Homo sapiens: one gene and its partners. The protein of the gene in region 2 interacts with the protein of the main gene of each other region in a pairwise test. Each region holds a gene or a part of one and is shown on either strand. Other genes may lie near its edges. The genes, in order: TLK1, BEND7, TRIM26 and FAM133A.

Region 1 (7,432 bases), on a different chromosome or scaffold from region 2:
GAGATTACTTTTTACTGCGATAGGCCTTTTACTGGAGAGATTAATTGCTCGGAGATTAGCATCACAGTGTTTTAAACAGATACTCAAAACAGTTGAGCTCCTTACAATAGCAACAAGGTGTAGCTACAAAATTATTACAGTACACAGTATGTGGTACAGTTAATTTTATGAAGTTATTATTTAATTCGGCATCTTTACATTTGTTTACGTTTCTCTCAACTGCAAATAGCACCAGGTACAGTCTGTGTTTGTATACGTTTTGATAAATTTTAACTTCTTGTAATAGATTTGTGTACATTTTATGGCAGTAAATGGTAAAACAGACAAGTATCTACATATATTTCACGCCTTCGTGACATACCTTTTTCTTAATTTTTTCAGTATTTTTTTTTTCGAGACGGAGTCTTGCTCTGTCGCCCAGGCAGGAGTGCAGTGGTATGATCTCAGCTCACTGCAACCTCTGCCTCCTGGATTCAAACAATTCCCCTGCCTCAGCCTCCCAAGTAGCTGGGATTCCAGGCATGGCCACCATGCCCAGCTAACTTTTGTACTTTTAGTATTTTTAGCAGAGACGAGGTTTCACCACGTTGGCCAGGCTGGTCTCGAACTCCTGACCTCAAGTGATCCGCCCGCCTCAGCCTCTCAGAATGCTTGGATTACAGGCGTGAGCCACCGTGTCCAGCCAATTTTTTCAATATTTCTAGGCTACATGGTTCGTCAGTGAGATTTTTCAAATTGTTGCAAATCTCCAAAAAATTTTCCAATGTATTTATCGGAAAAAAAAAAGCCACATAAAAGTGGACCCATGCATTTCAAACCTATATTATTCAAGGTCAGCTGTACATAGCTAAACAACTAATATGACTGTAGACATAAACCAATTTTTGGACCACAGATTTCCATGAGAAATACATTCCATGTTCCTATAGAACAATGCCATTATTGTATCTCCTTCCAGTACAGCCCCTGAAACATAAGCTCTTTGTCCCTCGAACATCTGTAAAAGGGAAATTTCCTTGTCCTTCCCTATACTAGTGAAGCCAGAGTGAGAGAGAAACAAATAATGAGAATGTCCTGCAGACGAAGAATAATTTATTGTTTAGAACATGGTTTTCAAGCTATCTTCCATGGAATCTAAGATTCTACCAAGATGCTTTGTTTTTGTTGGTTTTATTAGAATAAGATTTTGTTGTTAAAAAAAAAAATGAGCCTTGTTGCTAAAAGAAAAAAGTCCAAAGACTTTGAGAATATTGACTTTCAGGGGGTTACCAGTTTGAATAGTTTTCTTAAAATATGAAGAAAAAATTCATGACATTATTATCTTATCCATGTTCCTAGGAAATGCCACAAGCCAAATTTAAAATTTGAAAGTGGCTTTAAAAGAATACATGAATATGACTAATCCCTGCTCATTAAAAGTGAAATCTATACAGACAGTGGCATCGTGTGTAAGTGGTTATGATGTGCTCAGTTTGTGTGAATACTGTTCTGGAAAACCTGAAGTCACATTTATGTTTGTAGTCACAATCCTGTTTCAATGAAGTTGAACGCAGTTATCTTTCTTCCATTAAAATGTCACTCTTTATGCTAAACTAATTTTCTCTGAGAACTAAGTTTGTTTTGAAATTTTATAGTTTATGTTCTCCACTTTGGTGAATTTAACAAGTTTGAAAATTCACACTGAAGTAGTTTTTGTGAACACGTAGGTATACTGAGGGGATGACAGTCATTTAGATTTATATCTATGAATCTGTGATTATATCTAAATTTAAATCTAGACATATCAAGTCTTTAAAAGGGATTTCTGAAAGTCAAGTCCAAAGAATATGCCAAATTTATCTCCCATTCACAGCCAACAAAACATCCATCTTCCACAAAAACCACCAGCCAGGTGCAGTGGCTCACGCCTGTAATCCAAGCACTTTGGGAGAGGCAGATCACTTGATACCAGGAGTTCAAGACCAGCCTGGGCAACAAATTAAGACCTGGTCTCTACAAAAAGTTTAGATTAGCTGGGCATAGTGGTGCGTACCTGTGGTCTCAGTTACTCAAGAGTAAGTGGGCAGATCGCTTGAGCCTAGGAGTTTGAGGCTGCAATGAACTAAGATTACACCACTGCACAGGGCAAGACCCTGTCTCAAAATAAAATGAAAATTCCTGCAACCATATAACCTCCACAGAGAGGGCTTGATGCTTGCAGTTTTTGCTTGCAATAGTTAAAATATTATATTAACATAAGTATTTATATTTATGATGAACATCACGCTAACATTGTAGAAGAAAACCCATGAATGAATTCTTCCTGTTAGGAGTTTCTGACTGGCAGGTACTGAAGTCACTTGTTAATGCCAGGTCATTCTCTCTCCAGTATGCTGTTATTTGCAGTTAAGAACAGATGAGAAAAGAGGAATGACCACAGAAGTCTCCCTCTCAACTGAGAGCTTAATATCAGTACCTTTACCACAGTAATCTTAATGGCTACATGGAAATAAAAAAAAAAACACTAAATTATTATAAAAGCACTGGGCACCAATCTAGACATTCTGATGTTTTTAGTAATACACTTACCAGTAAGTGCCTGCCCCCTGGGAAGTTAGATCCATTCCATCTACACCATAGCTATCATCATCCATAATCTTGGACAGACCAAAATCAGTGATTTTGATTTCACCACATGCTGTTCCATCTACCAGTAGGATGTTTCCTAAGAATAAAATATAAGATTCTTTTAATGATACATACATGAAAAACATAACTTTAATAACTTTTAATTTTACTAGTATTTTACTGATGTCTTACAAGAGAAACCAAAAAACATGTTTTCAGATAACTTAATGAATGACTTTTAAAAACTATACTCAAGTTTAAAAAAAATTAGACAAATTTCATAATTACCTGGCTTAAGATCATAATGTATAATAGGGGGTTTGATCTCATTGAGATATCTTAGTGCATTTACAATCTGCATTACAATAGACCGAGCTTCTTTCTCTGACATTAACTTGTGTTGCTTCAGATAGAAATCCAAGTCATTGCCTTCACAGTATTCTAACACTGTACAAAACCTACAACAGAGAAGAGAAAAAAATTAGACATAAGTAATATCCAAGAATTCAGAATCACAATGGGGAAATGGAGAGTATTTATATCATCAACACAGGATGGGGAAAGAGAAAGCAAGCATATCTTTCCTTAAAAATTGAACCTTAATATTCACTTACGTATCTGTATCCAAGGAGAAATAATCATAGAGTTTAACTATTCTGGGGTGATCCAGTTCTTTGTGTATTCTATACTCTCTGCAGGCATGTCTATGAGAAGACAGTGTATTAATTCTCCATGATCATTCAAAAAATATTCAATTTTAAAAAACCATAAAGTATTAGTATTTACTTGTGGTAGTTTTCTTTCTTCTCATCTCTCCAGCTTTTATTAAGCTGATGTATCTTCACAGCAGCATATCTTTGTTCATAAAGGTCAAAAGCCTAGGATTTCAAGTCAAAAACAATTAAGATGAAAGACCAATTGAATAGCTGAAGAGATGTTTTTTATTTTGGTGATAATTTTTGCAATAATATGGAATTAGGACAAACCCTACAATTATTAATGATCTTCTCTGCTAAGACTATATATAGCTCAATGACACTTTTATTATCAGAAGACAGAAATTCCATGGTAATAAATCAGAGAAAACCTTAATGTGAATTTTCACATTAAATTTTATAAATGCCAATATACTGAATAAAAATAAAACAATAAAGCTATTATTTGTTTTTAATATGGACTTATTCCTCTATACTAGTAGTAAGCAGCCAGGAAAACAGATGACTGTACCACTTTTTTTGTAGGTTGGATAAAACCTTTTAAATCTATCTTTTCCTAGCAACCCCCTATTTCTTTCTCACTTTTTAGAAAAATTAAAAAGTTCCTAACAGTTATTTTTCCAACTGTTGAAAAAAACTCGTTATTATAAAACTGTTCAAACATATACACAAGTAGACTACTATAATGTGCCCTTATGCCCCTACCATCCAGTTTCAAAAATTACCAATATGTTGCCATTCTTGTTTCATCTATTCCCTAGTACCCTTGCATCCCACCCTTCCCAACCAGAGTATTATTAAAACAAATACATTATTTCTCCCAGTAAACACATCAGTATTTAAATAAAAATAACCACATACCATTATCACACCTAACTACATCAGTAATAATTCCTTCATCTCATCTAATACCTAACCTGTCTTCAATTTTCCCTGGTTGTCTCAAAAAGAATTTATACTTGATTTGTTCAAATCACCAGCCTATTTCTTAAATTAAAAACACAGAATGATCAGTATTTTAACAGCTTTACATGACTTATGTTTTTTTAAAAAGCAATGAATACCATTAAAGAGACATTTAATAATTTTGGTTCCATTGTGATTTACACACAAAGGTGCCCCTTTCACTTAAAAGCTTACGTATTTATTAGAAAGAAGGTCCCCATTTCCTCCCATCAATTTAACCTAAAAATAAGCAGGAAGGGATAAGCAGTAAAGTGACTACTTTGGTACAAAACTATAAAAGTATGAGATCAGATATAATATAGCACACAGTTGTTAAGAATATTCTGTTTGCAATCAGATTAGCTTATTAGCTGAGTGACTCTGTGCTAATACCCTCTCTGAGCCCCAAAAGTTAGGGTTATTGAGAGGATTAAATGGGGGTAAAACATATGAGGTGTTTAGAATAATACATGGTACGGCCAAGAAACATTAGCTAATTACATATTATTATTAAGGGTTAAGTGTAAAGAAACTGAGAAGAATAAAAATAAAGTAAGTTTATATAAGGGACAAGGCGGAACAAATCTATAAAGAATTCAAGGCAATCATAGTAAAGGATAATTGAAGAAAAAACTAAGCAAGCAATAAAAAGTTATTATCAGAGTATACTGATTATAATAAATTATATGTAACACATCTTCCTCCCAAAATTTCAGGTGAGTAGAAGTATACCTTTCCATAAGGTTAATATGGCAATCACTCAGCAACTGACTCAACATCTCCCATCCTGGTATAAAATACAACTCTTTACTTCTTGACTTACAATCTGCTTTTTGTCTAGTTGTTTCCCAACAGAACTGGCAATCATGAAAGGGCTTTAAAGGGCTTAGAGAATGATGTCACTAGTATTTAGGTCAGTATAGAAAGTTCAAGTCACTGGGCCCCAATCTGCACTTTCTAATCTCTATGTAAGCCTCTTCTACAAAAGTCCTCACCTATGAGGGTAAAATAGTTATTTAAAATACAACCAGGCAGTAGCAGAGGGTTGTTATGAAGGCTCATGGTAAGTTCATAAGCTCAACAACTTTTAGGCCACGCTAATGCTAACTGCACTTTTAGTGACTTTTAGATCCCAGCTGAACTATCATGATAATCTTTTCTACCTTATGGTAAGCCTACTTCACCCATTAAGTGCTTAAGGATAAACTATTATTAGAATCAGAGAAACAGGAATTGGAAGAGAGCCCAAAGATCACTTTTGATGAATGAGGAAGGTGAGGACCCTGACGTGTAATGCTTATCTAAGTTAACAAAAAATAGTGCATGGTTGAACTGATACCAGAACTGAAGTTCTCTTAACTCAAATCCCATAATTTTTCCAAGTCAGAAGCAGAAACGAGAAGGGTGTAGTCTTTGTCCCATGCAACAGTCAGGATTTCTTTTCCTTTTTTTTTTTTTTTTTTTTTTTTTTTTGAGAGAAAATGTCTCCCTCTGTCCCCCAGGGTGGAGTGCAGTAGCACAATCTTGGCTCACTGCAACCTCCCACCACCAAGGTTCAAGCGATTATCATGCCTCAGCCTCCGAGTAGCTGGAACTACAGGCATGTGCCATCATGCCTAGCTAATTTTTTTCTTGTATTTTTAGTAGAAACGGGTTCGCCATGTTGCCCAGACTGGTCTTGAACTCCTGAGTTCAGGCAATCTGCCTGCCTTGGCCCCACCAAGTGCTAGGATTACAGGTGTGAGCCATGGCCAACAAGCAGGATTTCTAATAATCTTATCAGCTTATCTCAGCACCTATGTTCTATATGATTTACATGTGATAACTCAGTTAATCACTGCAACAACCCTATAATGTAGGTATTGTTATTATTCTCAGAAGGAGCCAATGAGTCAGACAGGGATTTAAATAAGAAGCCCAAATTAATAAAATTAGTAAATAGCAGTCAGGATTTAAACCTAGCTGTCTGGCTTCAGAACCAAAGCTTTTAACCAACTATGCCAGTACGTAATGAAGCACAAAGGAGCTTATAAAAAGGCACACCAAATCTATCAGAGAAGATGCAGAGGGTCAGGGAAGCTGTTTAGAGGAACTAAAGATGAGCATATAACCCTTCACTAGGACTTCATCCCAAGAGCAAATGGGAAGCTACTGGGGCTTTCAAGTAGGACAGATGATCAGGCTGCCTTTTATAAAAAGTTCACTCTAGTTGCAGTGTACAAAATGACTTGAGAAAAGCAATGCCCAAAAGAAGACAATCAGCTATGAGGTTCCGGAAGAAGCCTTGAGCTAAGAGACAGAAGGGAAGGGTCATGGCTGAATTTAGGAGAACTTAATGACATTAATAATAGCAGGAACTAGGGGCTTATAATATGTGAGGGGAGGGGAACAAAGGGAAAGGAAGAGCATACGATGGTTTTTGTGTTTTTTCACTTGAGGGACCAGGCAGATGAATGGCAATGTTATATACTGAGGTCAGGGAAGTCAGAAGCAGTGTTAAAAGACATTTTAGAGGAGAGGAAGATAACTTCTATTTCAAATGTGAGTTTCCAGTACCTATGAAGCACCCACATGAGGTAAGTCATGTATACAAACATACTTTGAGGTATTGAACTCAGGAAGAAAGTGTGAGCTAGATATTACCTGGGGGTGACACCAAATAGATAACCCAGTGAATGAGAGAGGATAAAAACCTTCTTAAGGGAGAATACAGAATGATAAAAGGGACCTTAGGAATCCAATATTTAAAGGTTAGGCTAAAAGATACAACATAAAGTACAAAAAAAAAAAAAAAGAAAGGCATAAAATAGTGAACATGGGGAGTAAAAATGCTACATTTATACATATGCATTTGAGAAACGGACTTGACATAGGTAGAAATTTGGATAAATTCAGGACATGTTAATACTTCAGACATTTTTTAATTAAGGGGTACAATCTTTCTATAAGTGTACTGTATTAAATGGCTACCTGCCTATCTTGATTTAAATAGCTGTTACTCTTTGTATTGGACTGGTTAATGGTGACTAGGTATCAAATATCACAGGGACTGTGCAGGTGGCAAGGACAGTCTTTGGATTCTGGAAATAAGACAACAGAAGCCACAACAAACCCTTTTTTATAATGAGGACATATAATCAATAAACAAAAGACAAGTACTTCTT
Region 2 (7,963 bases):
CTGTTATCCAGATGTCAAAGATGTAATACCCCAATTACACAAACTATTGCCAGTGAAGCATGCCAACGAATATGCAATGTAAATGGGGTGAGCGCAGAGCCACAAAACTGCACAGTCAGCATCTGGCTCTGTGAGTGAGTGATAATTAGCACTGTGTGTAGACACTAATAAACATTTATGTCTGAAATTACAACTTTTAGCAATGTTAATAAGGGATATATTGGCAATCTGTAAAATAAAAGGTCTTGAAAAGAATGTCATACATTAAGCAATGGCAGACATTTCCCGTTCCTGAACAATTTCCTTTTTTCCCCCTAATTGCAAATGGTCACGATGTTTTGCTGAGGTATTAATTGACATAGGAACCTACCTAAAAAAATGGGCTGTGTCTCTTTGGCCTCCCCATTAACATCGTTGCTGAATTCTGGGATCTTATACACCTCGTGGTGATAATCTGGCATGAGAAAACAACCAAAAATTAGAATCCTAAGGACCTCAAGATAGGAATAAGCAGTCAAGTCTAGAATCTCATTCTATTTAGTTTGTATACTCTATAATTTATAAATAAACTTTTTGAGAACTGAAATAATCACAGAATTTGTAGTCAATAATAATTCCTAAAACTTTGCTTATTCTGGAGTACGCAAACTTGAAAGATTACTTTGGCTTTAGAAGACAGCTTTGCTTGATCACACCATGTTCACGGTAAATTGTACCCACAGATGCCAATTTTTAGGCTTTTTTTCTTTGAGGTGGCAAGTATGTTTGCCCAATCATAGAGCAGGGGAGGTTTCCAAATTTCTCTTCACAACCCATTTTCACCAGCATATCAACAGTATGCTTTAAAGTTTAGCCAGCACTCTAGTTTTCTCAGTTTACCCAGAAAATCTCAGCCTTTAAGCAGCTTAAAGGCAAGCACACATGAAAAATACTGATTTGTTATTTCAAATGTAGTATGATTTGGATAAGAAAGCAAGATTTTCATCTTTCACACAAGTGACTCTTTCGCATTCAGCTACTGCACTTTATTTAATATGCAAGTTTATTTTCTAAAACTGCACCTGCAGAGAAAGAGAAGAATCAGACCTATAATTAAAAGAAAAAGAAAAAAGGAAAAAGGAAAAACTTGCTACGTCAGTCAAAGTTTCAAATACAGTATTTTACAAGCTTCTCTATGGAGGCTACTGCATTTTTGCTTCTATTTTTGAAAAGCAGGGTCACTAAGGCATGAAAATAGAGGTTCCTCCTTAACACCTAGTCCCCTTTCTCTGGCCTTAGACCTCACAGGACAAAGTCAACAAAACTACTCTCACTTTTAAGATAAAGCAGTTAAGTTCTCTGAGGTCATCAATAAGAAAGCAGCTTACATTCCTGAATGAATCAGATAGCACCAACAGGGCAATCACCCAGACAGAGACTTTTAAAAGTCCAAGTAACTGAGTAATCAACACGGATGTGGAAAAAAAAATTTACTCAGAAAGTGGGAAGAGCCAAGTATTTTGAATGCGTGAAACTATTTCAGGCCTCTTTCATTAAACAGTATCCAAACTAAATTAGGGGAGGCAGATAAGAATGGATCTTCAAAATGCCTATAATCAAAGCATTTTCAGATGAACCAAATCCACATCTTAGCTAGCTTAGCTCAGTTTGAAAAATTCGATTACTTGCAATTGTCCACGATTTTTTCACTAATTTTCATCAGTTTACACGTGACTTCTGCAGGTTGTTGGAGTTTCTACCCTGATGCCAATGCTAGAGAAAACGACAGAGGAAAAGTGGACAGGTTGGGGTTTGGCTTTGACCTCAACTTGATTAAAAGACGACATTTAAACAGAGCGGGTCTAAACTCAATATGAGGACTTGTGACATTACAATGAAAAAAGTCACCTGCCCCTAATTAAAGATGACAATGCATTTTGAGATATATTTTCACGATGGCTCTTGAGTTATCATTTTTTTAAAAAAAAAAGTCAAATCAGGAAGATAAAGACTCTTAACAAGTAACTGAACACAGACAAGACTGTATTCCACTTTCCCCTCCCTGACAAAATACAAACCCTAGAGTGTGGTGTACACCTGTTAATTCGTCAGAAACTAGATGGATTTCTTTTCTTTCTTTTCTTTTTTCTTTTTTTTAAAGGATGCTTATCTGACTGCTATATGATCTAGTCTAAAACACCTTTCCAACCCAAATCAGCTAGCTAGAGATGTTGGATGTCAACAATTCCGCCTTGGGCTTGGACACGGCGTGAGCTTCTTTCTCCTTCTTAAAAAGAACAACAACGGTCATCCTTTTTCCTCCTTCTCTTGGCGGGGGGAAGGGGGAAGACCCCAGAAAACAAAAACAGCAAATCTCAGGTCCGAGGGTCCACGCTCGGCCTGATGGCCAGGCAGGTCCGCGGCCGCCCCAGCCCTGCCCCGGAGGCGCCCCGAGGAGGGCTCGGGCCCCCCGGTGTCATTGTTTGCTAATTTCCTGAGCTGCCCTCCGACTTGTTTACGTTAAATAACATCCCTGCTCCCCCCGCACAACTTTCCCCGCCGCCCGGCGTGTGCGGCCGCGGCCCTGCCTGCCAGCCCGGCGGAGGCACCGGGGGACCGGGAAGGACCGGGGGCTCCGGGAGGGCGCGCCCCCCAGCGTGGACCCCCGCGGGCGGCCGAGGGCGCGGCGCCCGCTGCCTGCCCCCGCCGCCCCGGCGGCCGCTTACCTCGGCTCACCAGTTTGAAGCTCTGGGATTTCCTGCTTCTTTTCCTCTCGGAGAACTCCATGGTGCGGGGAAGGCGGCGGCGGGGGCTGAGGAGGCGGCGGCAGCGGCGGCAGCGGCAGCGGCGGCAGCGGCAGCGGCGGCGCGGGCTCGTGTCACCGCGGCGGAGCCGCCGGGACCAAGGTCCGCGCCTGGAGTCGGCGAGGGGAGGCCGCGGGACGGGAGGAACCACCGCGAGCCGGCTCGGGGCTGCAGGCGCGGGGCCCGGCGGCGTGGGCTCCCGGGCGAAGTTGCCCCCGCGCGGCGCCGCCTCCCGGTGCCCTAGGCGCCCCCGCGGCCCCCGCTCATGCCGGCCCGCGGGTTCCAGACGCCGCCCGCCGCAGCCCAACTTTCCGTTGGGAGCGGGCCGGGCCGGGGCGCGGCGGCGGCGGCGGAGGCGGGGGGCGGCTCGGGGCGGCCGGCCCGCCTGGGCTCAGCCTGCGGTCGCGGCGGCGGCGGCGGCGGCCCCGAAGACGCGGCGGGCGGGCTGCGGGGAGGGCGGCGGCGGGTGCAGAGCCGGCCGGGGCGCTGACCGCCCCCGCGGGAGGAGGGGCGCCGGCGGAGGGGGCGGTGCCGCTGGGACCCCAGGGCCACCTGCTGGCGGAGCCCGGCCGCCGCCATCCCCGGGGGCCGCCGCCGGCCTGGCCGCGCGGCGCCCCGAGGAGGCGCGGAGGCCGCGGCGCAGCGCCCTGGCCCGGGCCCGGCCGGCCTGCCTGCCCCCGGGGACGACGCCGCCGCCCGGGCCTCCGCTCGCAGACCCCGCTCGCTGGCCTCCCTCCGCCGCTTGCTGGGCCGAGCTAACTCCGTGCACCTCGCCGTGGGGGCGCGGACCGCCCCGACAACCACCTCCCCGCCCTCACATCCCGGGCGCCCCGGGGCCCGACGCGCTGATTTTAAGCAAGTTTTAGGGGGAAAAAACTTACCCATTTGCGCTCTCTCTAGAAGGACAGAGAGGAGGTTTTAGAATATTGTGGAGAAGAATATAGTAGAGAGCTCCCATTCCCTAACCCAGGCTGGGCGGATTGTGGAAAGAGCCGAGTCACATTCAAGGAGAGCACTTGGAATGGGGGGCTTGGTGGCCCTGGGGACTCTCAGGAGGCCATGGTCAAGGCAGGTGCAGGGCACTATGCTTCTCCACGTCATATGTCGGAATCATGGACCCAAACACAAAGCGCTTAGTAGTTATGTGTAATATTCTTTTCGGGGGATCAGAGAGCGCACTTCAGGCACCATTTCTTTCTCACATCTTTCGAGTGGGCCAGGAAAAGAATTTCACACTACCTGGGAATGGTAGGACAGGAACATGACGGGACATGCGTGAAAGTATCTGCCAAACCCAACCAGGAAGAGGGTAAAGAGTCGGGGGATGGGGGGGCTACCTCTCCGGCACGGGACAAAGGCCAGTGGCCCCAAAAGAGTAGAGAGGAAAAAGGGGAGGTTGACAAATGTGATGAGTGTCACGTGGGTCTCACCCAAATGAGGCAGCCGCTGAGGAACCGCTCTTATTTCAGGGACACAGAGTAGGACAACTGCCGAGGAAGGGGGACATTGAGGCAGCTTGCAGAAACACACATGGAGAAACAGAACCAAAGAGCAGGGTAACCAGCAAACCAGGCAGTGGAGGCAGGGATGGGTACCCATCCCGAGATCTTGGGTGATACCAAAGGCGGCACATCCGGAAGGCTGGTTATACCTAGCGTGGAGGGGAGAGGGAGAACTGTTTCTTCCGTTCAATAAAGCAAACCCTTCAACAAGAGGTTCTTAACCTTTTTTAGTCACTGTTTCCTTTGAGATTGTGTTCAAAGCTCAAGGGCCCTTTTTCCCAGAAAATATGTATGGGACATATAAAATTTAGTATAGATTTATTGGAGTTCTTAGACGCGCTTTGCTGCTCTCAGAAAATTAGTGGTAACAGTGATTAAAGCAACTACCCTATTTGGGTTTCTTCCTTCCCTGCCACCCCTTTCTTTAAAATCAGGCATTAAAATCTGAAGATGTTTTGGATTTTTTTTTATTTTTTATTTTTTGAGACAGAGTCTCATTCTGTCGCCCAGGATGGAGTGCAGTGGTGCGATCTCAGCTTACTGCAACCTCCACCTCCCGGGTTCAAGCGATTTTCCTGCCTCAGCCTCCCAAGTAGCTAGGATTACAGGCATGGGCCACCACGCCCAGCTAATTTTTTGTATTTTAGTAGAGATGGGGTTTCGCCATGTTGGCCAGGCTGGTTTCAAACTCCTGACCTCAAGTGATCAGCCCGCCTAGGCCTCCCAAAGTGCTGGGATTACAGGCGTGAACCACCACGTCCGGCTGTTTTGGATGTTTTTAAAGAAACAAAGCATGCAATTTTGTTCCCCAGGCTGGGATCCATTCTTTCTTTATGTAATGCCTTTTAAAATGTTATTCTCAAAGCCGTAAGGCTAAGTTCTACACTGACTGAGGAACTTCCCGGATCGTTCATGCTTTGGAGCATATAATGAGATTTTATTATGCTTAAACTATGACGAACCCAGTGAAGGTGTCATCCCAAGAAGTAAATCCCTGGAGAAGGTATTAACAACTTAGCATTTTCAGTTCAAGTGGGAATGCAAATTCCATTTACTGAAGAGAATATTTTTGATATAGTTAAGAATAAAATATTTGAGTAAGAATATTTTTAAATAGTAGTCATTTCTCCTTGACCCTTTTTAACCTGGCTTTCCAAAGTTGGTCTATGAGTGAGTTGGCCTGCAGAGGACACAGGCTACGCTTGTCTTATTAGCTTTTAGAGAAAATAAATGTCTGTTTACTCTGCATTTTGTGCAAATCACTATGCTCTTATCTAACAAAAATGTATATATCACATTTAGTATTAAAATTAATAATAATGTTTAATTAAAATGAGGTTGCTTGGGGCCAGGTGTAGTGGCTCACACCTGTAATCCCAACATTTTGGGATACAGAAGGATTGCTTAAGGCCAGAAATTCAAGACCAACCTGGATAACATCCTGAGACCCGGTCTCTACCAAAAAATTAAAATATAAAATAAAACATAAAGTGAGATTGCTTTAAGTAGCAGGTATCCATATAGTAGCTGATCCTTATCCTTGGGGAGTATGTCCAAGACCTTCAGTGGATGTCTGAACCTGAGGATAGTACCGAACCCCGTATATACTATGTTACCATCAAACCCCATATATACCGTGTTTTTTATTGTTTTATGTTTTCTAATAACCAAGCCAACAAGTGACTAACGAGCAGATAGTGCAGACAATGTGAATACGCTAGGCTAAAGAATGATTCCTATTCTGGGCCGGAAGGAGCAGGTTGGCTAAAGATTTCATCATGCCACTCAAAATGGGGCACAATTTTAAATTGATGCATTGTTTATTTCTGGAAGTTTCCATTCAATATTTGCAGGCCATAGGTGACTGCAGGTAACTGAAATCATGGATAAAGGGGGACTACTGTATTAGCCTGTTCGGGCTATCTTAACAAATACCACATACTGGGTGACTTAACAGCAGCTTATTTTCTTACCATTCTAAAGGCTGCAAGTTTCAGATCTAGGTCTGGCAGGGTCAGTTTCTGGCGAGGGCCCTTTTCTTAGCTTGCACACCACTACACTTACATGGCATAGGAAGAGAGCTGTCTTTCTCTCCCTCTTCTTGTAAGGCCACCAATCTTATCAAATTAGGGCTCCGCCTTTATGATCTCTTTTAACCTTAATTACCTTCTATTAAAGGTTCAATCTCCAGATACAGTCACGTTAGGAGTCAGGGATTCAACATATGAGTTTGTGGGGGACACAAATCAGTCTGTAGCCATCTTGTTTTCACTCAAATATAATGTCTGTATTGAGGGGTCCTGGAAAGTTTTCTAGGGGATCTACTGAAGTCATTTCTTTACCCCATTCTTTCCAATTTTAGTATATGTGCTGCCGAAGCTAGCACTCTTTGCCTCATTCTTAAAGGCCCCCTAAAGTTCCAGAACCACAGGTTTATGTGTTACTGGAGATCAGAGATAATTGGTCAAATATTCAATGACATCACGCAGGGCAAACATTTTATTATATGGCCATGCTTAAACCCACTTGATTATAAAGATTACATGTTGGTTTCAATCTTTGACAAAGCCAGATAATTTGGCCAGAAAACCTGAAGTAACCTTACCGCTAATACTTGAAATGCTCTTCCTGAAAACTGTCCTGAGAGGAATAGCATTATGAAAAGTTTCATCTTTATTTAGAGCTCTGCTGTCGAATAGAAATACAATGCAAGCTATGTATGTAATTTAAAATGTCCTATTAGCCACACTGAAAAAAGTAAAAATAAACAGATGAAATTCATTTTAATAATTTATCTTATTTAACTGAATACATTAAAATATTATCATTTTGACACATAATATGAGAATATTATTATTGAGATAGTTTATATGCTTTTTGTTATACAAAGTTTTGAAATTGGTATGCATCTTACCCTTAGATTACAAATCAATTCAAACTAGCCAAATTTCAAATTGTCCATAGTCACATGTAGTTACAGGTGACCATACTGGGCAGCTCAGATTTAGAAGGAATGTATGATTTGAACCATGCTATGTACGTAGATGTAGTATGTCTACAACTTGATTACTGTTTAACTGTTTTATTAATACACCTCAGAAAGAAGATGAGCAGAATGGAATTATTGGGCTTCAGGCTTTTTATAATCTTTGATTGGATTTTCTGGAATTGAATATCCTGTCATTAAATAGATTCTGGGAATCCTTCAGGAAGATTTAATATGTATAAATATCCACTTTTCAACATTAGGACAATCACCCATCAGACGGTCATGGAAGGAATAGATGCCCTCCTTTTAGCTGCCGTTTCCCAAGTGTTGCTGGCCTAATGCAGTTTCTACACCCGTTTACTTCATTGGTTTTGGTGATTGTAATTTAAGAGAAAGGAGGCAGTATTTATAAGATATTTCATAAGTGAAAATGAGAGTTGGAATGTTCCACAAATAATATTACCTTATATTTTATATGGGGCTTCTTTTACAGCTCAAGCATAGGTATGCATTATCTAACTCTTAATAGTTCTATGAGATTGGTATATATTAATATTCCAATTTTGCAAATGAGAAAAATCCATTCTGAAGACCATTTTTTAGTGAAATTAGAATGGTCTGCTGTTTCCTGACTCTTAAATATGATGCATGAACCTTATTTTTTTTTACTTGGTTCTTTAAAATACTTT
Region 3 (7,432 bases), on a different chromosome or scaffold from region 2:
GGGCAGTATCAATTTCCTGATAGGGATCCATGTCTAAGACAAGAGGCCCTCAGAAGAGTGAGGATCGACAAGGTGATGGAAAGGAGCTGGGTGCGCTCTTTCTACGAGGTAGCCCTGCTCTGACTCCCACCCTTTGTGCGCTCCCCAACCCTTACCCTGGAATTCCCTCAGGCCTCGTTGCAGAGAGAGGAGTTTATCTGAGAATTCTCCGGTCTTTTTTTTAACCACTCGAGCAATGGGTTTCCCAACCCAGAACTTCTTCCGTGGATACCTAAGAAGATGACATACATAACAAGCTGTTACTCAGCTCTTCTTACTTTCCTTCATACTTATCTCTCAATCCTCATGGCAATTATGAAGGGGAGAGGAAAGGTATGATTATCCCCAAACAAGTGACAGAAAAACAGTGGCCCAAAGACACCAGCTGAACCAGGGCTTCAGAACATCAGTAGACTCCACATCCAGGGCGCTCTGTCTACTAAGCCATGTTTCTAACCTCTCTGCTCTGTCCCACCTCAAATAAGGCCAGTGGGCCAAGGAGCTGGGGCTACACAGAGAACCATAAGGAGGAGAGCAAGTCTCCAGTTCTCAATGATGTGTCCTGCTCCTCAGAAGGGCATCAGGATGAACCATGGGATGTGAGTACCTCTGGCACCATACCACTCCCCATGAATTCAAATGCACCTGGTCAGAAGCGGGGGAACATAAACAAGGGGGATGAGGTACGCCATGGAGAGGAGACTCTTTTACCTGTTTAGGAAGTCTCTCGTGTCCTAGAAGGGAAAGAAAAAAGCACAAGTATCAATATGAATCAAATAAGACTTCAATGCATCTGCACCCAACACTGTAGCAGAGATGGGACATATCAGTGAACAAAACAAATGTGGTCCCTTTTTTATGGAGCTGACATTCCAGTGGGGTCACTGCATAAAACAACAAGAAAACAAACAAAATCGGCACAATGACAGAAGCCACAATGGCTGGGAGATGACATGGGCAACCTCTCTGGGAGATACCTGCGCAGAGAATTGACGGATAAGAAGTACTGGCCGGATGAAGAGAGGTAAGGTAAAACAGGAAAGGGCTTGGTGAGAACGGCAGAGGCCAGACTGCGCAGGGCTGGATATGCATGGTAAGGAGTTTCACTTTTGCTCCACGTACAGTGGAAACCCACCAAGGGTTTCAAGTAGGGGCATGATATGTGTGATCCGCTCTACATGTGGCTGAGACTGCTGTGTAACCTCCAGAGTCCACTCTCCCCTTCCTCCTTTTAATAATAGAACCCCCGGAGTTATTGCTGGTCAGGCGGCCACCTGGGAAGACTACATTTTCCAGATCCCCTACGACAAGGTCTGGTCATGAGACTAAGTTCCAGCCAATGGAATGTGATAGAAAGCAATGACCATAATTCTGGGCATTGTCCTTTAAAAAAAGAAAATTGCTTTCTACTTCCTTTTTACCCCAACTGAATTTTGGACATGGTGGTGGTGAGCCCAACTTTGACCACGCAGCAGAGGACAACATCCCTAGAAGCTGGTGGAAGAACCACATGGAAGTAACCCAGTCCCTTGGATAAGCTTATGTACAGCTACTGTGATAGCTCTAGACCCTGCACCTCTGAACTGTTAACTGAGGCAGAAATAAACTTCTATTCTGTTTGCGTCACTGTACAGCAGTGAGCCAAAACCCTAAGTGACCACTCACTTGGCTGCCCCACAGAGAAGGGACTAAGGAGGCAAGAGGAACATGGGGAGGTTGGTCCGGAGGCTTTTGCCGTGGACCAGGGGAGAGCTAAAGATGGCCTGAACTAAGGTGGTGGCAGTAGGGAGAAAAAGAGAGAAGCAATACATTCCAGGTATTTTAGAGACAGATTCAACTGGACATACTGGTCAAGGATAAACAAGAACAGAGCATGGTTTGTACAGGGGGGAGAATGGTGGTGCTATCTCTGTGACAGACAGGTGGTAGGGCAGGGTGAGTGGGAAGAGGGCTATTCTGACATGCTCAGATTCCCTTTTGTGAGTCAAAAGCCTCCTTAATACCCTGTATTAATTGATTTTTGCCTTCCTTTCACTCATTCCACAAATATTTATTAAGTGCTTCCTAGGTACCAGGCACTCATCTAGAAGCCTCAGAACAGTTAAAAAAAAAAAAAAAAAAAGAGAGAGAGAGACAAATCCCTACTTCTGTAGAGCTGACATTCTAGCAGGGGGAAGCAGACAATAATCAATGTAGCAAATACATCATACTACGTGAGTGATACGCACCACGGGAAAAGAGAGCAGAGTGAAGGGGGATGGGAGCAGGGGCCGGTGGGGTGCAGGCTGGCTTCCTGGAGAGGGTGAGATTTGGGAAACAAATGGAATTAACAAATTGTGGCTGCTGATGACTGCTTCCAAAAGTTTGGGAAGAGTTGTGAGCTTTACTCCAGAGGAATAAGACAAGAAGTCAGAGGCACATCCCAACCCCCCGCTATGAAGCAAGTGCCCAGAGACTGGTAGCACATTTCTGGCCAAGTCCTCTAACATGCCCCTCAAAACATGTAAGTCCAAGGCGGCTTCAGAGGACAGGCAACAAAACAGACAGTGTGTCCTGACAGCTCTGCTGACAAAGGTGGCATAAAAGAGCAAATGAATGGAGCAGTAGCTGGAGTGTGGGCCAGAGGCCCATTTGGGCATATTTCCTGACATGGAAGTTCCTAGAACAGTAGAAAGGGAGAGAATCATACAGGAGAAAGAAGAGTCCTCTAAAGGTTAAAGGTTGTGAGCAGCCCAGAGAGGGTGGGTCCCGAGAGCCAGGGCAGGGCTGGCCCTGAGGAGAAGAGGCTGAAAGACTCAGGAGCCCCCATCCACAGCCACATACAGGGCCTCTGGAGGGAAGTGATCCGCCCAAGTCTCCTGGAGGACTCTTCTCACCCAAGACATCTGAAGCTGTCATGAAACAGGCAGAGCCGAGCAGTGGGGCTGCGGCAATGAGTCATGGCAAGCTCCCGGAGGGGATGTGCCCGGTTACTAAGAGAGAGCATCAAGAAAGTTCTTCACGGGGGTGTACAGCAGGAGAAGCAGGGTACAAGCATGCCACCTGATCCTGCAGGGCCTGCCCGGGTTACCAGGGCAGGATGCAGTGTCTCTCTGGGCCTCTCCTGTCACCCCAATCCCTTTAATGTCTTCTTGATGCTCCCAGCCCATAGGTTTGTCTTTCCTTTCCTATCACCTCTATCAAAAGGTCTCTTCTATTTTACACATTTTGTCCTGCTGCTTCTCCCTCTCACCTGTATTTCTATTTTATTTTAATTTTTTTGAGACAGGATCTCACTATGTTGCCCAGGCTGGTCTCAAACTCCTGGGTTCAAGCAATCTGCCTGCCTCAGCCTCCCAAAGTGCTGGAATTATAGGTGTGAATCACCACACCAGCCTCACCTGTATTTCTCTATCAGACTTCTGGACCCTATTTTAGGTCTTTTTCTTACTATACTTTGACAGCCAAATAATCTCTGGGAAAATATTAATGCTAATTAGGGAGGTAGCTGTCCAGTTCCCACGCAGTACAATCAAACTCAAATAAGCACACAGACAAAATCTACCAATACCATTTTTCTGCGTATGGTTGGTTACCCAGTTTTCCTAGCACCATTTATTAAAGAGACTGTCCCTTCCCCATTGTATGTTCTTGGTTCCTTTGTTGAAAATCAGTTGGCTGTAAATATGTGAATTTATTTCTGAGTTCTCTACTCTGTTCCATTGGTCTATGTGTCTGCTTTTATATCAATACATGCTGTTTTGGTTACTACAGCTTTGTAGTATATATATATATATGTATATATACATATATATGTATCTATATACATATATATGTGTATATATATATACATATATGTGTGTGTGTGTGTGTGTGTGTGTGTATATATATATATATATATATTTTTTTTTTTTTTTTTTTAATGGAGTCTCACTCTATTGCCCAGGCTGGAATGCAGTGGCACAATCTCGGCTCACTGCAACCTCTGCCTCCTGGATTCAAGTGATTCTCCTGCCTCAGCCTCCCGAGTAGCTGGGATTATAGGTGCGCACCATCACGCCCAGCTAATTTTTGTATTTTTAGTAGAGATGGGGTTTCACCATGTTGGTCAGGCTGGTCTCAAACTCCTGACCTCGTGATCCGCCTGTCTCGGCCTCACAAAGTGCTGGGATTACAGGTGTGAGCCACCACAACTGGCTGTAGTATATTTTGAAGTAAGATAGTGTGAGGCCTCCAGTTTTGTTCTTTTTGCTTAGGATTGCTTTGGCCATTTGGGGTTTTTTGTGACTCCATATGAATTTTAGTTTTTTTTCTATTTTTCTGAAGAATGTCATTCGTATTTTGATAACAGGGATTGTATTAAATCTGTAGACTGCTTTGGGTAGGACAGTCATTTTAACAATATTAATTCTAATCCACAAGCATGGAATATTTTTCCATTTGTTTGTGTCCTCTTCAATTTCTTTCATCAGTGTTTTGTAGTTTTCATTAAAGAGGTCTTTCACCTCCTTGGTTAACTTCATTCCCAGGTATTTTATTTTACTTTTGTAGCTATTGTAAATGGGGTTGCTTTCTTGATGTCTTTTTTAGCTAGTTTGTTATTGGTGTATTAAAAATGCAGTAGACTTTTTATGTTGATTTTGTATCCTGCAACTTTACTGAATTTGTTTATTAGTTCTAAGGGTTTTTTGGTGGGGCCTTTAGGTTTTTCTACATATAAGTATAGCCGTTACGGAAAACAGTATGAGAGTTTCTCAAAAAACTAAAAATAGAACTACCATATGATCCAGCAATCTCATTACTAGGTATTTATCCAAAGAAAAGAAAATCAGTATATCAAAGGGATACCTGCACACTCATGTTTATTGTGGCACTATTCACAATAGTTGAGATGTGGACTCAATCTAAGCATCCATCAACAGATAGATAAAGAAAATGTAGCATATATACACAATGGAGTACTATTCATCCATAATAAATTTGAGTTCATGGAAGTAAGACAGTAGAATAGTAATGATTAGAGGTTGGGAAGGGGGCTGGGGAGAGGAGGGTGGGGAGAAGTTGGTTAACAGATACAAAGTTATAGCTACATGGGAAGAATAAATTCTAGTGTTGTGCAGCATTGCAGGGAGAATATAATTAACTATAATTTACTATACATTTTCAAAAAGCTAGAAGAGAGGATTTTGAATGTTCCAACACAAAGAAATGATAAGTGTTTGAGGTGACAGATATACTAATTACTCTGAGTTGATTATTATATATTATATACTTGTATCAAAGTATCACTCTAGGCCAGGCACAGTGGCTCACGCCTGTAATCCCAGCACTGTGGGAGGCTGAGGCAGGCGATCACCTGAGGTCAGGAGTTCAAGACCAGCCTGGCCAACATGGTGAAACCCTGACTCTACCAAAAATACAGAAAATAGCCAGGTGTGGTGATGTGCGCCTGTAATCCCAGCTATTTGGGAGGCTGAGGCAGGAGAATCGCTTGAACCCAGGAGACAGAGGTTGCAGAGGCAGGAGAATTGCTTCAACCCAGGAGGCGGAGATTACAGTGAGCTGAGATCACGCCACTGCACTCCAGCCTGGGAGACAGAGCGAGACTCTGTCTCAAAAATAAACAAACAAAAACCTCTACATCCCATAAATATATACATTATATAGCACTAAAATTAAAAGAGAAAACACAAAACAAAAAAAGAAACCTACCAGTACCAATAACATTTCCTATACTAGTTTCAAGCTGACACCATTTTCTCTCCCTTCCCTTGACCTTATCCCACCCCAGGGAGAGCTGCAATCTGAGTGCTCTGAGTCATTGAGGGCCAGGCTTCTGCTCTGAGGGCCACTTCTCTGGGTGCATTAGGAAAAGGCACCCCTCCGGGCAAACACAATGGATTTCAGCCCCACCACATCCTCAGCTGTGTGCCTCTGTTCCACACAGTAGGCATTCACACATGGCAGGGGCGTGAGGAGAGGAAGGAGAAGAGAAACGGGCAAAAGGAGATGCAGAAAATGACCCAGTCAAAGAGTATGACGAGAGAAATCTGAGAGAACAGAATGACATCTGGAGGAAAAGAGGGGGCCAGAGAGACATTCTGGACAAAATAAGAACAAGAGCTCAGAGCCCAGGAGTCAGGACATCTGGGCTCAAGCTGTGACCTGACACCCACCCCATGGCCTGGGACAAACTCCTCCCACTCTCTGGACCTCAGTGACTTCATCAGTAGGGGCTGAACTGGAAGGTCTAAAATCCCTGCCAGTCCTCATTCTGTACATCTGAATTCACAACAATGAGGAGCAGGTGGCCGCCTCCTTCTGCAGTCTGTCCCAGTGCACATACTGCAGAGTCTGCCTTGCTATCTCTCCCTCCTAGCTATTGCCCTGCCATTAGCCTGGGACTCCACCTTCCTAGAGATCCTGGGTGGCTCTGCTGCTGACAGACAGACCCAGCCACCCTAAACAGTGCAAGTGGGGGAATACCATCAGAGAGCCCCTCCCCTCCCAGCCTATGAGAGCAGGAAGGTTGAGCCCTCTACCCCTCCAAAGGGGACTGGGCCCTCTTCAGGGTAAGTGTGATCCCCAGAGGCTCCCGGGGGGGAGGAGATGTGGTGCCATTTCAGCTTCACAGCCAGTTCTTCAGCCCCAAACCCTCCCTTTCTCACTATCAAAGCCCCCTCCTCTAGGAGGTGCCCCGAGGCCCCCTTGTCTGCTTTCCATCTTGTTCTCTGTGTGGTAATCCCATGGGCCAAAGAAAACCTGGCCATCTCTGTCTCCCTTCCCCAGTTACCCTATCTCTTCCAGATCCTCTGGGTCTTTGAGAGGAGCTGCTGGTCAGCCCTCCCTCAGCCACCCCCAACCACAACACCATAAAAAGCTTCCACCAGCTGCTAAGTGTCTGCCAATGACTTGTTAAGAGGGCTTGTGATGGCAGTGATGAGGATGGAGGATGGTAAATGATATTAATAATCTTCCCTTCCATTTTCTACTATACCATTTAGTTTTTTGAACAGTTTTGTGTAAAAAGTTTATTTTTTGAAGTGACAGCATGCCAGTTATTTCATTTTATGCTCATGCAATCTACAGACTAATTGGCAGCAGTAAGGATTATCATCTCCATGTTTCAGATGACAAAACTGAGCCCCCAAGTCTTCTAAGGTCCTGCAAGTGAATGGCAGGGCTGGGACCCACCGTCCTGGTCCCTGGCGCCCTGCCCAGGGACGGCCTCTCACCTGCATGAGCTCTGCAGCTGGCTGCTGCGCCTTGCCCTCCAGTTCGGAGATGACCAGGGCCAGCCGGGCAAGCTCCCCGACGCCCCGGCTCTTGAACTTCTCCCTGCCCTCCGTGAGCTCCTGCTCCAGCTTCGCCAGCTGTTCCAGCAGGTGTTCCTCCCGCTCCCTCAGGAACTGAT
Region 4 (7,432 bases), on a different chromosome or scaffold from region 2:
TCCCATCCTGTTTAACTGCTTTTTCTGGCTAGCTCTGGTTTATACCACAGGTCTCAGATGATATGTCAGTGTCTCAGATGATATGTCAGTATCTCAGACTTGACCTTCCCTTCTGAATTAGGTCTCTGTTTCTTTCATAGCATCCTGTACTTTTCCTTCATCTCCCCAGTCATGATTATGATTATATACTCATTTGTTTCATATTTGTGTAATAACTATTACCTTTACTAAACTGTAATATCCATTGCATAGTATCTTGGCACATAATAGATTATCAAAAGGGAATTGTAAGAATCAATGAACAAATATTATTATAATATCCAGATTACTAGCATGATTGTCACAATTTATATCTAACCTTTACAGGATTTTAGCATATTTCATGAAAATAAGTAGATGTACAGAAAATCAAGTTACTCTTTGTTCTATAATAGAAACAGAGAAGATAAGCCACAGTGCTTTTAAAACAGAGTATTTGAGCAAGAGACTTTGTTGGTGTTACTTTTTCTCTTTTCTCAATTTGATTTATCTTCTAGGAAAGGATCATACAGATTCTTCAGTTCAGAAGAACTCCAGCAACACTTACATGGTGACAACACCCTCTCCCATTCTCTGTTGTTACTCCAAATTTTAATTACTGGTCTCAAAACTCCTGTCTTAATCTTAGCAGACAACCTTGGCACTTACCACTGAATGAAAATGAAGGCTATTATGTGAGAAATACTTCATCTTTCTCCCTTTTACCTCCTACCACCCTACAAAAAATCCTGCATCCATTCCCTGTCTTTATTCTTTGCCTCTGCTCTTGGGGGAAGAAATTCTTTCTATCTCTGAATTTAATTTCATTCCTTTCTGTTTTCTCTGTGATATTGCCACATTAGTTATTTCTTCTCTTACCTAGGTTTTTAAAACATGTTTTCTTTGTACTTTATCCTTCTAGATGCCCTATGAATATGCTCAAGTTTCTTTCATGTAAAAAAAAACACAAAAGAATTTTAACTCTGCATCTTTCATGGTTGCCTTCTTATCTCTTTACTTTCCGTATTGACTGTGACTATGTACTCTAGGTCTCTACATTCTCACCTTCAATTCAGTCTTTTAACCCACTGTCACCTGGCTTGTGCCTTCACCACTTAGCTGAGATTGCATTAGCAAAGGTTACTAATGACTTCTTGATAGCTAAGTATAATGGACATTTTCAGATCTGAACTTGACTGATCTTCTGCATTTAATACTGTTGTCTGTAACAAATCTTTTCTATTTTTATGAATTTTTCAAAGGTAAGGATAATACTTGTTTTTTGTAGAAAATTTAAACATTACAGAGTCATAAGGATTCTTATGCTCACCTTGAAACTTTATTCACCCTGTGTTTCTTGACTCTTTCTTTTCTGATACTGGTCCAGCTCTTACTACTCTGGCTAATTTCTTAATGCATACTTTGTAGGTTTTTCATTCACTGCCAACCCCTTGCATGTTGGTGTTCAGTTGGATCCAGTCTCAAACTTTTTTCCACTTGAAATTTCCCTGCAAAATAATTTAGTTTTCTCTCATGACCCTAGCTATCACTCAGCGACTGCCAGTTCAGTATTTCTAACTCAGATCACTTTCCAAAGTGCCAAATCCCATACATCCTCTTTCTTACATGGATAATTGTCCATAAATCTCATAGGCACTTCAAACTTCAGGAGTCCAAAATGGAAACTAGAACCTTTTCTCGAAGTCTGTGCCATTTTCTCTATTACCTAGTCATTGTCATTGCCTTTGGTCTAATGTGTCGAGCCAGAGCCTTACCCCAGATTTCTTTCTCTTTTTCATCCTTTGTATCCAATTTGTCACTAATTTCAATAGAATCTTCTCAACATGTCTCATATATTTCTCATTCTTTTCATTCACAGTGTTGCTGTTTGAGTTCAGACTCTTTCATTTCTTGTCTACATGAATTTTTAAGTGGTCCCATTGCCTTCTGTCTTAACCTGACTTCAATCCGTCTGTCACTGGGCAAATAATTGTCCTTAAACACTCAAATATGACCATATCATTTTTCTGCTTAAAATAGTGTCTCCCCGTTAGCTTCACTGTAAATCCCACAGGAGAGATTCCAACCACCTTAGCATACCACCCAAAGCCTTTGTTAACTGGCCTTCGCCTATCTTTCTAGCTGATGTCAGGACTAGGTCTCAAGGGACTGAAATTAGAATGGATTATTCTATTGTAAGTGTCAAGTAACAGAAAGAAGCTGCAAGTTGAATATGAACTGAAGTATTTAAGAGTTTTGAATGGTCAAATCAGAGACACAATGATATTTGAGACGTGGTTAGGGTAAGAGTAAGAATGAAAATTACAGAAAGACCTAAAAGGGCTGCCTATAAATAAAGAGGAAGGAGAATAAGATCAAGAACACAGAAAATAAGATGTTGGAAACTATCACCAAGAGTCACTGAAATGTCTATAGCATTGAGCTTATGATGGGTAGGTATGTTAGGTTGACTTAAAGGATCAGATTTAAGATGGAGATTGATAGAAAAATCTATTATATGTCTGATCGTCTTTCTCTTCTATATAAAAGACTTTATTGGCTCTTGTATCAACTATAGGACAAAATTCAAGATTTTCAAATGACCTAAGAGGGCCTCCATATTTAGGCTTCTTTTTATCTCTGCAAACTTACCTCCTTCCCCCTGCCCTCTTGATCTTTAGGTTCCATCAACTCTAAATACCTGCTGCTCTTTTCTCATGTTTCCTCTGCCAAGATTGTCCTTAATTTCCTCATTTTCTGGGTAAATGCCTGTTCATTCCTTAAGACCCTATACAGACATCACCATCTCCAGGACACTCCCTCTGAATCCTCCTTTCTCTCAGAGTTACCCATCCATCCATCCATGCATTTATTTATTTGTTTATTATTGAGAAAATATTTATTGAGTGCTTAATATGGATCAGATTCTATGTCAGGTAATGGGAACACCGTGGTGAATAAGATAGGCCACACATGACCTTTACCCTTCTTGGTCTTACATTTAGCAGTGGATACACATGTATAACGCAATAATCACAAATAAAATAATTACCAATTTCATAAATGCTACAAATAAAATAAACGATGAACTATCATACAGAAAAATGAGGATGAGGGGTAGACAGAGAGGCAAACCACTTTAGTATAAGGTTGAGCCATAAAAAGTTGTTGATCTTTAAACTGTTTGTGTCCCATAAAATAGTTTTACATAGTTTAACCTAATGGTTGACTTTCTGAGGAATTGACATTTAAGCTGAAACCTGAAGGATGAGGTGGAATTGGCCATGCTGGCTAAGCCTATAATTCGGCATGTTCCAGGAACCAAATGAAAAGAATTGAGAAAAAAGGTGAGTGAAACAAAACAAAAGTAAGAGACAGAAGTAGGGCAGATCATATAGGACCTTATAGGAGATTGGATTTGTTTTTCATTAAAATATAAAACCACTGGAGTTTTTTAAGATCCCTCTGTTTACAGTGTGGGACTAGAATAAAAGGGAGTAAGGTTGGAAAAATGCTACCTATTAAGAGGTTGATGTAAGGAGACAATTTGGTGTTGCCTTATTTGTGCAGCTTGGAATCAGGCTGCCTTTGTTTAAATCCTGGATATGCCATTTATTAGCCATGTTACTTCATGTTCAAATTTTGAGTTTTACTCTAATTCTCTAAGCCTCAGTTTATCTATCTGTGAAATAGAGACAATGATAGGATCAACTTCATAGGTCTGGCCTTGAGATTGAATGAGATAATCCATTGCAAACACTAAGCAGTCCTTGACAGAGAATAAACACTTACTAGGTACTAGAGATTAATAGCCCAAGCGAGAGATGATAGTGGCCTGGGCTAAGTTGATGACAGTATATTTGGAGACAAGTGAATGGATATGAGGCCTATTGTGGAGGTTTAAATATCAGGATTTAGTAATGTATTGGATTTGACCGTTGAGGGAGAAGGATTTCTCAGTTATGACTCCTGGGCTTCTGTCAAAAGGAATGGAGAGGGTTGTGTTGCACTTTCTTGAGTTGGCGAAGGTCTGTCTGGTACAGATTTTAGTTTTATAAATTTCTCTCTATATACTATATAAAGCAGGAATGAAAGAAAGGAAAAAGTTAAGTATCATACAATGTAAGAGAAAATGGCTATTAAATATTTTAGGTATCTGTCAGAATCTTACATGAGGTATATAAAACACTTTTAGTTTATATTATGTTTATACCACAGTGTCTATAATATGTAAAATTTTAAAATGTGTATATTGTTTGTTCCCATGGTATAAGATTTTGGAAATTTCTACTGTACTGTGTGATAGGCAGTGTTAACAATTAAGCTTATATGTTTGTTTGTCTTTATATTAAAGGTGATTTGTAATCATTCCATCTGCTTCTCTTACAGAATGGAGCTTGCTTGATATTTCACTAGATAAAGAATTTAAGGCGAGTATCTATCTTTGTTCTCCTTGGCAACTGAGAGTCTGCCCTTGGAAACATCAGGCACCATGGGGAAGCGGGATAATCGGGTAGCCTATATGAATCCTATAGCAATGGCCAGATGGAGAGGCCCAACTCAATCTGTGGGCCCAACAATCCAAGATTATCTAAATCGACCAAGACCCACCTGGGAAGAAGTAAAGAAACAATTAGAAAATAAAAAAACAGGTTCAAAAGCATTAGCTGAATTTGAAGAAAAAATGAATGAAAATTGGAAGAAAGAACTTGAAAAAAGCAGAGAGAAATTATTAAGTGGAAATGAGAGCTCATCTAAAAAAAGAGAAAGAAAGAAAAAGAGAAAGAAGAAATCTTGTCGGTCTTCATCTTCTTCATCAAGCTCTGATTCTTCAAGCAGTTCTTCAGATTCTGAGGATGAGGAAAAGAAACAAGGAAAAAGGAGAAAGAAAAAGAAGAACCGTTCATACAAATCATCCCAAAGCTCTACGCATGAATCAGAATCAGAGAGCAAGGAGTCTGTAAAAAAGAAAAAGAAGTCAAAGGATGAAACAGAGAAAGAAAAGGATGTAAGAAGCCTCAGCAAAAAAAGAAAGAAAAGTTACCCTGATGATAAACCTTTATCATCTGAGTCCTCATCTGAATCAGATTATGAAGAGGATGTGCAAGCAAAAAAGAAGAGAAGGTGTGAAGAGCGAGAACAAGCAAAGGAAAAAGTAAAGAAGAAGAAGAAGAAACAGCACAAGAAACATAGTAAGAAGAAGAAAAAGAAGTCTGGATCAAGTCACAAGTCAAGGTAACATCAAGAAAAAAAGCAAGAATGAGTTTGCCGAGTTCCCCTGTGTTAGTAGAATTATTTCTGGACTTTGAGTTGCCTATCAAATCCCACTGTGCCAGTAAGGGGCATAGTGGCTGCTGGCAACTTCAATATACATTTTTGTTTGTTTGCTTGTCCTTCCTTCTAATGGTTAATTCCTCTGAGAGCTAAAATTCTGTTGTCATACCAGTGAATAAAATGTTTGAAATTAAAGTAAAATGTGTTAGATAATGAATAACTTTGACAAAAAAAAGTGTATCTAAGGTTAAATGTATCTAATTCGAATACATCTTTGAAATATCACCATCAATGAAACATAAATGTAATTTCCAGACAATTGTAGTTGGTATTTTTGATGCAAGGACTTAATATTGATGTCTCAAATTCCTTGCTTTTGTAAATAAGTTTAGTTCATTTTCCTTTTTTCTTTAATGAATCTTTGTTTACATGGGGAAAGAGCATGTGGGGTGGGAAGGGCAAGTGTTTGCTAATCACTGTGGCTAGCTGAATAGTGTGCCTTTGACTCTTACACATCCTATTTTTGCCAGAGCAGCAGCCGTCCTTTTCTTACTTTATGAAATTCTGGGGTGTTGTATGCTGCTTCAAGTGAACAAGAAGGACAGGAGTTTACAGCATAAGTAAGCCCCCATATCTATGAAATTTACCTCTTCTTCAGCACTGTTTACTATACAGTACTGAATAATATTTAGTATTACAATATTACATGATTTGAAATAACTTTATACCCATTTTGTATGGGAACCATTCTAAACAGACCCTGATGTTGTTTGATTAAGAAATATTCTGAAATTTTTTTTGCATGTTTTATACTGTTAAGTTTTAATTATCTGACCATATTCTATATAACTGATGATCCTTTTTTAAGATATGATTTATGCTTAGGATATAAGTTTCAAGTTTTTAGTTTCTTAGCCTTGCTATATTAATTTCATTACTGTGTTTAATTGCACCCTTGCCAAAATATTTAGCATGTGAAAAGGTTTTTTTTAAAAAATATGTAATGCCTTCATATTGAAGCTGGTTACTGTACGCAAGTTGAGTGCCAGACCTCTAGTACGCCGTATGTTACATGAAACTACTGCCAAAATCTTAGTAAGATTGTTGTTGAAAAGATTGTTGTCTTAAGCATTAATATTGAATTTATATAGAAGTTAAATGTAGATGATAATGACATCATTGATCTTCCTGTGTCCGTATTTTCCTACAATTTGGTGCCTTGTATCTGTTGCTGATTCACTTTTACCACTAGTGTAAAAATAAGTGAAAAAATATTTTTACTTTACATTTTTATATATCAGAGTAACATAAATTATAAATTTGTGTCTCAAAACCACCTGTGATGGAGGATGTGCTAATTGTAATGTCATAGGTACAAAGTATTTTGGCATGATGAAAAGCTCAATAGCTATTGTTTTTCAATAGCAGATTTTATCTCGGCTACCTTCAATCACAAGTAAAATTATAAAGATAAAAAACATCTACATAAACATGTTGGCTGCCAAATTTTTTGCATTGGAAATACTGGAATCTCTCATTAAAGTTCTTGGAACATTATAGTGATGCCATGTTAGATTACCTTGGAGCTTCATAACTTTAGCTTTTTCCTAAAAATATATGTTTATGCTGATAAAAACTATTACATTTATGGGATATTTTGTATCCATATAGAGTTTTTCAGAATTGTTCATTAAAATGCTTTTTATAAGCTTATATTATTTGTAGAATATGGCAAAAGCATTTACAGCTCATCATGTATCTATCTGCTCCTGTTCACTTCCAAACCTCTTGTAGTTAGGCAATGCCATTTGACTACTTCAAGCAGAGGGATTGTAAACAGAAGTGATTTTCTATTTCCATGTTGGACTGTAAAAAGTTCTGCATGACCCTCCAGTTTTCTTTTGCCTGTCATGGTGACCTGAAAGCAAGATGTTCCAAATGGCATACTTACAAGACGGATGCAACCTGGGTCCTTAGGTCGCTGTTTAGAAGGGACCTGACTGGAGTGCTGATGGACTTGCAGTAAACTTTTTAAGTGTAAGAAATAAACTGTTATGTGTTAAACCACTGTGATTTGGGGTCTTTTTATTACTGCGGAATCACCTAACCTAATCTGACCAATAACATAGAACTCTAGAAC

Evidence for each region.
Region 1: the proteins of BEND7 (region 2) and TLK1 interact in binary tests that used the Homo sapiens proteins (3 or more experiments, as listed by UniProt).
Region 3: the proteins of BEND7 (region 2) and TRIM26 interact in binary tests that used the Homo sapiens proteins (3 or more experiments, as listed by UniProt).
Region 4: the proteins of BEND7 (region 2) and FAM133A interact in binary tests that used the Homo sapiens proteins (3 or more experiments, as listed by UniProt).

What each region holds. Positions count from the first base shown.
Region 1 is NC_000002.12:171,003,579-171,011,010, forward strand, and holds part of TLK1 (serine/threonine-protein kinase tousled-like 1), read right to left. Parts: intron 3,486-7,432; coding exon 3,394-3,485; intron 3,312-3,393; coding exon 3,222-3,311; intron 3,066-3,221; coding exon 2,896-3,065; intron 2,705-2,895; coding exon 2,569-2,704; intron 1-2,568. UniProt on the Homo sapiens protein: Rapidly and transiently inhibited by phosphorylation following the generation of DNA double-stranded breaks during S-phase. This is cell cycle checkpoint and ATM-pathway dependent and appears to regulate processes involved in chromatin assembly.
Region 2 is NC_000010.11:13,525,768-13,533,730, forward strand, and holds the start of BEND7 (BEN domain-containing protein 7), read right to left. Parts: upstream 3,248-7,963; 5' UTR 2,767-3,247; coding exon 2,706-2,766; intron 2,416-2,705; exon of another isoform or gene 2,058-2,415; intron 2,037-2,057; exon of another isoform or gene 1,665-2,036; intron 455-1,664; coding exon 371-454; intron 1-370.
Region 3 is NC_000006.12:30,189,263-30,196,694, forward strand, and holds part of TRIM26 (tripartite motif-containing protein 26), read right to left. Parts: coding exon 7,254-7,432; intron 774-7,253; coding exon 751-773; intron 272-750; coding exon 156-271; intron 1-155.
Region 4 is NC_000023.11:93,704,910-93,712,341, forward strand, and holds the end of FAM133A (protein FAM133A), read left to right. Parts: intron 1-536; exon of another isoform or gene 537-3,365; intron 3,366-4,407; 5' UTR 4,408-4,510; coding exon 4,511-5,257; 3' UTR 5,258-7,356; downstream 7,357-7,432.